2 linked regions of the Homo sapiens genome follow. The protein of the gene in region 1 purifies or fractionates together with the protein of each later gene. This does not show direct contact. Each region holds a gene or a part of one and is shown in the gene's direction. Other genes may lie near its edges.

The links. The genes of interacting proteins can lie anywhere in the genome.
Region 2: the proteins of PTAFR (region 1) and EIF2B3 purify together in Homo sapiens (affinity purification with mass spectrometry; one large-scale study listed by BioGRID and IntAct). This does not show direct contact.

What each region holds. Positions count from the first base shown.
Region 1 is NC_000001.11:28,149,679-28,152,690, reverse strand, and holds part of PTAFR (platelet-activating factor receptor), read left to right. Parts: intron 1-1,631; 5' UTR 1,632-1,669; coding exon 1,670-2,698; 3' UTR 2,699-3,012. UniProt on the Homo sapiens protein: Receptor for platelet activating factor, a chemotactic phospholipid mediator that possesses potent inflammatory, smooth-muscle contractile and hypotensive activity.
Region 2 is NC_000001.11:44,875,096-44,878,595, reverse strand, and holds part of EIF2B3 (translation initiation factor eIF2B subunit gamma), read left to right. Parts: intron 1-2,900; coding exon 2,901-2,978; intron 2,979-3,500. UniProt on the Homo sapiens protein: Acts as a component of the translation initiation factor 2B (eIF2B) complex, which catalyzes the exchange of GDP for GTP on the eukaryotic initiation factor 2 (eIF2) complex gamma subunit.

The sequences.
Region 1 (3,012 bases):
GCTCACTGCAACCTCCACCTCCCGGGTTCAAGTGATTCTCCTGCCTCAGCCTCCCAAGTAGCTGGGATTACAGGCGCCTGCCACCACGCCCAGCTAATTTTTGTATTTTTAGTAGAGACAGGGTTTCATAATGTTGGCCAGGCTGGTCTCGAACTCCTGACATCAGGAGATCCACCCACCTCAGCCCAGCCTCCTGAGTAGCTGGGACTACAGGCATACAACACCACACCCAGCTGATTTTTTGTGTTTTTGTACAGACAGGGGTTGCACCATGTTGGCCAGGCTGGTCTTGAACTCCTGACCTCAGGCGATCCGCCCACCTTGGCCTCCCAAAGTGCTGGGATTACAGGCGTAAGCCATCATGCCTGGGCAGACAGTTATATTTTAAAATGGAATAAAAGAAGAGAAACAGAACTGCCATTGATTGTATTGACTATCAGGTGCTATTTATTGTAAAAACACACCATTATTTTATGTAGGAAAAAACACTGCATGGTCAGGGGTGGTGGCTCTCGCCTGTAATCCCAGCACTTTGGGAGGCCAAGGCTGGCAGATTCCTTGAGCTCAGGAGTTCGAGAACAGCATGGGCAACATAGCAAAACCCCTTCCCTACAAAAAATACAAAAATTAGCTAGGTGTGGTGTCACACGCATACCTGTAGTCCCAGCTACTCAGGAGGCTGAGGTGGGAAGATTGCTTGAGCCCAAGAGGTTGAGGTTGCAGTGAGCTGTGATCGCACCACTGCACTCTAGCCTGGGTGACAGAGCAAGACCTTGTCTATAAAAAGCAAAAAACAAAGAAAAGAAGAGAAAAAAGGAAGAGAAATGTATTTCTCATAGTTCTGGAGGATGTTCATGATCAAGGCACCAGCAGGTTTAGTGTCTGATGCCTGGTTATCTGCTTCCAAGATGGCACCTTGAAAGCTGTGACCTCACATGGCAAAAGGGATGGAAAGACAAAAAGGGCAATATTAAGTGCTTTCTTCAACCTTGAGCCCCTTTTTAAAGAATTATTATTTTTTTTTTTTGTGTGAGACAGAGTCTCACTTTGTCACCCAGGCAGGAGTGCAGTGGCACAATCACAGCTCACTTCAGCCTTGACCTCCCTGGGCAACCCGGAGCCCTTTTCTAAGTGTGCTAATCCCATTCCACCCTCTGACTTAATCACCTTCCACAGGCCACACCTCTGCACTGGGGATTAAGATTCAACATGAGGCCGGGCACAGTGACTCATGCCTGTAATCCCAGCACTTTGGGAGGCCGAGGTGGGCAGATCACCTGAGGTTGGGAGTTTGAGACCAGCCTGAACAACATGGAGAAACCCCATCTCCACTAAAAATACAAACTAGCCAGGCATGGTGGTGCATGCCTGTAATCCCAGCTACTTGGGAGGCTGAGGCAGGAGAATCGCTTGAACCCGGGAGGCGGAGGTTGCGGTGAGCTGAGATCACGCCACTGCACTCCAGCCTGGGCAGCAAGAGTGAAACTCCATCTGAAAAAAAAAAAAAGATTCAACATGAACTTCTGAGGGGACATCATCATTCTAACCATGGCAAGGAGTCTTGGAACTGATGAAATGGAACAGTCCCTTCTTGTCCCTTTATTAACCAGAATTTTTGTGTGGTCTTCCAGGCACCACCAGGACCAGCTGATCATTCCAGCCCACAGCAATGGAGCCACATGACTCCTCCCACATGGACTCTGAGTTCCGATACACTCTCTTCCCGATTGTTTACAGCATCATCTTTGTGCTCGGGGTCATTGCTAATGGCTACGTGCTGTGGGTCTTTGCCCGCCTGTACCCTTGCAAGAAATTCAATGAGATAAAGATCTTCATGGTGAACCTCACCATGGCGGACATGCTCTTCTTGATCACCCTGCCACTTTGGATTGTCTACTACCAAAACCAGGGCAACTGGATACTCCCCAAATTCCTGTGCAACGTGGCTGGCTGCCTTTTCTTCATCAACACCTACTGCTCTGTGGCCTTCCTGGGCGTCATCACTTATAACCGCTTCCAGGCAGTAACTCGGCCCATCAAGACTGCTCAGGCCAACACCCGCAAGCGTGGCATCTCTTTGTCCTTGGTCATCTGGGTGGCCATTGTGGGAGCTGCATCCTACTTCCTCATCCTGGACTCCACCAACACAGTGCCCGACAGTGCTGGCTCAGGCAACGTCACTCGCTGCTTTGAGCATTACGAGAAGGGCAGCGTGCCAGTCCTCATCATCCACATCTTCATCGTGTTCAGCTTCTTCCTGGTCTTCCTCATCATCCTCTTCTGCAACCTGGTCATCATCCGTACCTTGCTCATGCAGCCGGTGCAGCAGCAGCGCAACGCTGAAGTCAAGCGCCGGGCGCTGTGGATGGTGTGCACGGTCTTGGCGGTGTTCATCATCTGCTTCGTGCCCCACCACGTGGTGCAGCTGCCCTGGACCCTTGCTGAGCTGGGCTTCCAGGACAGCAAATTCCACCAGGCCATTAATGATGCACATCAGGTCACCCTCTGCCTCCTTAGCACCAACTGTGTCTTAGACCCTGTTATCTACTGTTTCCTCACCAAGAAGTTCCGCAAGCACCTCACCGAAAAGTTCTACAGCATGCGCAGTAGCCGGAAATGCTCCCGGGCCACCACGGATACGGTCACTGAAGTGGTTGTGCCATTCAACCAGATCCCTGGCAATTCCCTCAAAAATTAGTCCCTGCTTCCAGGCCTGAAGTCTTCTCCTCCATGAACATCATGGACTGAGCTGGGGGAAGAAGGGATATCTACTGTGGTCTGGGCACCACCTCTGTGGGCACTGGTGGGCCATTAGATTTGGAGGCTACCTCACCTGGGCAGGGATGATGGCAGAGCCAGGCTGTTGGAAAATCCAGAACTCAAATGAGCCCCTTCATCCGCCTGTGGGCGCATACTACAGTAACTGTGACTGATGACTTTATCCTGAGTCCCTTAATCTTATGGGGCCGGAAGGAATGTCAGGGCCAGGTGCAGACCTTGGGGGAAGACTTT
Region 2 (3,500 bases), about 17 Mb from region 1:
AATATAAAAGAAATTGTTGAAAATTGGGATTGAGGCCGGGCACAGTGGCTCACGCCTGTAATCCCAGCACTTTGGGAGGCTGAGACGGGTGGATCGCCTGAGGTCAGGAGTTCGAGACCAGGCTGGCCAACATGGTGAAACCCTGTCTCTACTAAAAATACAAAAATTAGCCAAGCATGGTGGCATGCACCTGTAATCCCAGCTTCTCAGGAGGCTGAGGCAGGAGAATTGCTTGAACCTGATAGGTGGAGGTTGCAGTAAGCTGAGATTGTGCCACTGCACTCCAGCCTGGGCAACAGAGTGAGACTCTGTCTCAAAAAAAAGAAAAAGAAAATTGGGATTGACTCCTGAAGAAAACCTGGCTCAGGAATCTGTAGGACCCACACCAGATAAAACCTCAGGTGAGCCTCAACCTGTATTGGTTACAGATCCAAGGGAGTCCCAAGCCAGAGAGCTTATGAGAAATCATAGCTAGTCCCACATTTACCCATGACTAGCATCTTTCACGCTGGTCTGGAAAGATGTTCATGGATAACCTGAGTGGGAAGACTTGTCCAGATCACAGGTGCACCGCTGTGTCCACATCATGAAAGAGGGACCCTGCTCTCGAGTGAGCATGCTGGGAAAAGTATCCTTTGAAGTGCCAACAGGGACTATGCAGCAGACGGGCCTGAAGGGCCTTGGGTGGAGTGTGGAAGAAGAGAACCTAGGGCTGGGGGCTTGGAATTAGCCTTCACATTCCAGTGTAGCCGTGCTGACAAGGCCTCCGTCAGCTAGTGTGGCTGCCACGCACAGTGCTCTGACCAGCATTCTGTCTATGCTGGAGAATCATAGACAGGCGCACTACCTGTGCCTTCCTAATAGACTGGTAGCCAAAGCCCCCCATACCTCTAACCTTTCCAGGTTTCTCACACTGGAGAGGGAATAGTGTGAACTTCCCCTTCATGTTTTCTTTTGGCTGGGGGATAGATGCCTTCTCAGGGTCTGTCCTTGATTTCGAATTTGTCTAAAATGGATCTCATCCTCACCTCATGCGTGGTCACAGTGGTCCAGGAGGTGACCAGGAACCCAGGATGCTTATGATCAGGATGCGGGGTGTTCCTTGACCTGATCAGGCCTCCTTTCCCAAGAGGTGGTATGTGGGTATCTCAAAGACTGGTCTCAGTGCCTCCCAGCCAAGGGACATGGCATTACTTTCAAGGAGGAGCATTCAAAGCTAAGAGACTGACAATAAGGCCATCTAGAAGCTGCTGCATAAATAATCTTGGTCCTAGGGGGAATGCAGCAGCCTCCTGCTCCCCCTCACTCAGACAGGAAGCTATGGCTGAGAACTCCCTGTATCTCTGATTGAGCACTGGGTTCTACCTAAGGTGTTTTTTTTTTTTTTTTTTTTTTTTTTTTTTATTGATCATTCTTGGGTGTTTCTCGCAGAGGGGGATTTGGCAGGGTCATAGGACAATAGTGGAGGGAATGTCAGCAGATAAACAAGTGAACAAAGGTCTCTGGTTTTCCTAGGCAGAGGACCCTGTGGCCTTCCGCAGCGTTTGTGTCCCTGGGTACTTAAGATCAGGGAGTGGTGATGACTCTTAACGAGCATGCTGCCTTCAAGCATCTGTTTAACAAAGCACATCTTGCACCGCCCTTAATCCATTTAACCCTGAGTGGACACAGCACATGTTTCAGAGAGCACAGGGTTGGGGGTAAGGTCGCAGATCAACAGGATCCCAAGGCAGAAGAATTTTTCTTAGTACAGAACAAAATGAAAAGTCTCCCATGTCTACTTCTCTCTACACAGACACAGCAACCATCCGATTTCTCAATCTTTTCCCCACCTTTCCCGCCTTTCTATTCCACAAAACCGCCATTGTCATCATGGCCCGTTCTCAATGAGCTGTTGGGTACACCTCCCAGAGGGGGTCGTGGCCGGGCAGAGGGGCTCCTCACTTCCCAGTAGGGGCGGCCAGGCAGAAGCGCCCCTCACCTCCCGGATGGGGCGGCTGGCCGGGTGGGGGGCTGACCCCCACCTCCCTCCCGGACGGGGTGGCTGCCGGGCGGAGACGCTCCTCACTTCCCAGACGGGGTGGCTGCCGGACGGAGGGGCTCCTCACTTCTCAGACGGGGCGGCTGCCAGGCAGAGGGTCTCCTCACTTCTCAGACGGGGCGGCCGGGCAGAGACGCTCCTCACCTCCCAGACAGGGTCGCGGCCAGGCAGAGGCGCTCCTCACATCCCAGACGGGGCGGCGGGGCAGAGGCGCTCCCCACATCCCAGACTATGGGCGGCCGGGCAGAGACGCTCCTCACTTCCTAGATGGGATGGCAGCGGGGAAGAGGTGCTCCTCACCTCCTAGATGGGATGGCGGCCAGGCAGAGACGCTCCTCACTTCCCAGACGGTGTGGCGGCCGGGCAGAGGCTGCAATCTCAGCTCTTTGGGAGGCCAAGGCAGGCGGCTGGGAGGTGGTTGTAGCTAGCCGAGATCACGCCACTGCACTCCAGCCTGGGCACCATTGAGCACTGAGTGAACCAGACTCCGTCTGCAATCCCGGCACCTCGGGAGGCCGAGGCTGGCGGATCACTCGCGGTTAGGAGCTGGAGACCAGCCCGGCCAACACAGCGAAACCCGTCTCCACCAAAAAAATACGAAAACCAGTCAGGCGTGGCGGCGCGCGCCTGCAATTGCAGGCAGTCGGCAGGCTGAGGCAGGAGAATCAGGCAGGGAGGTTGCAGTGAGCCGAGATGGCAGCAGTACAGTCCAGCTTTGGCTCGGCATCAGAGGGAGACCGTGGAAAGAGAGGGAGAGGGAGACCGTGGGGAGGGGGAGTGGGAGAGGTAGAGGGAGAGGGAGAGGGAGAGCTACCTAAGGTGTTTTCTGATCTTTAGTGACCAAATCTCTGTCCTTAAGGTGCCCAAATTGCTGTCTGCTCTCTGTCCAGAAGAACCACCAGTCCATTCGTCAGCCCAGATTGTCAGCAAACACCTGGTAAGTGCTAGTGTGGCCAGGACGGGCATGAGATGTTCTTTGGGAGCATCGAGACTTGTTTTTGAGAAGCCGGATTGAGGCCTTTAAGTCCTGAACCTCATCAGCCCCAGGGAAATCACAGTGGGTTCTGAGAATAAAATCTCACTCAACAAGACTGCCTGGGCAAGTAATGACCTTGTAAGGAAGGGTCCATTATAGTGTTGGGACTCAGACACAGGAGCTCTCAATCTCAGCCTGAAAGACTCTAGTCATGGGTAAATGTGGGACTACCTATGATTCTCATAAGCTCTCTGGCTTGGGACTCCCTTGGATCTGTAACCAATCCAGGTAGAGGCTCACCTGAGGTTTTATCTGGTATGGGTCCTACAGATTCCTGAGCCAAGTTTTCTTCAGGAGTCAGTCCCAATTTTCTTTTTCTTTTTTTTTGAGACAGAGTCTCACTCTGTTGCCCAGGCTGGAGTGCAGTGGCACAATCTGTCCCCCTTCTAACTCTGATTTGAGCACACTCTTTAAGAGAGCACA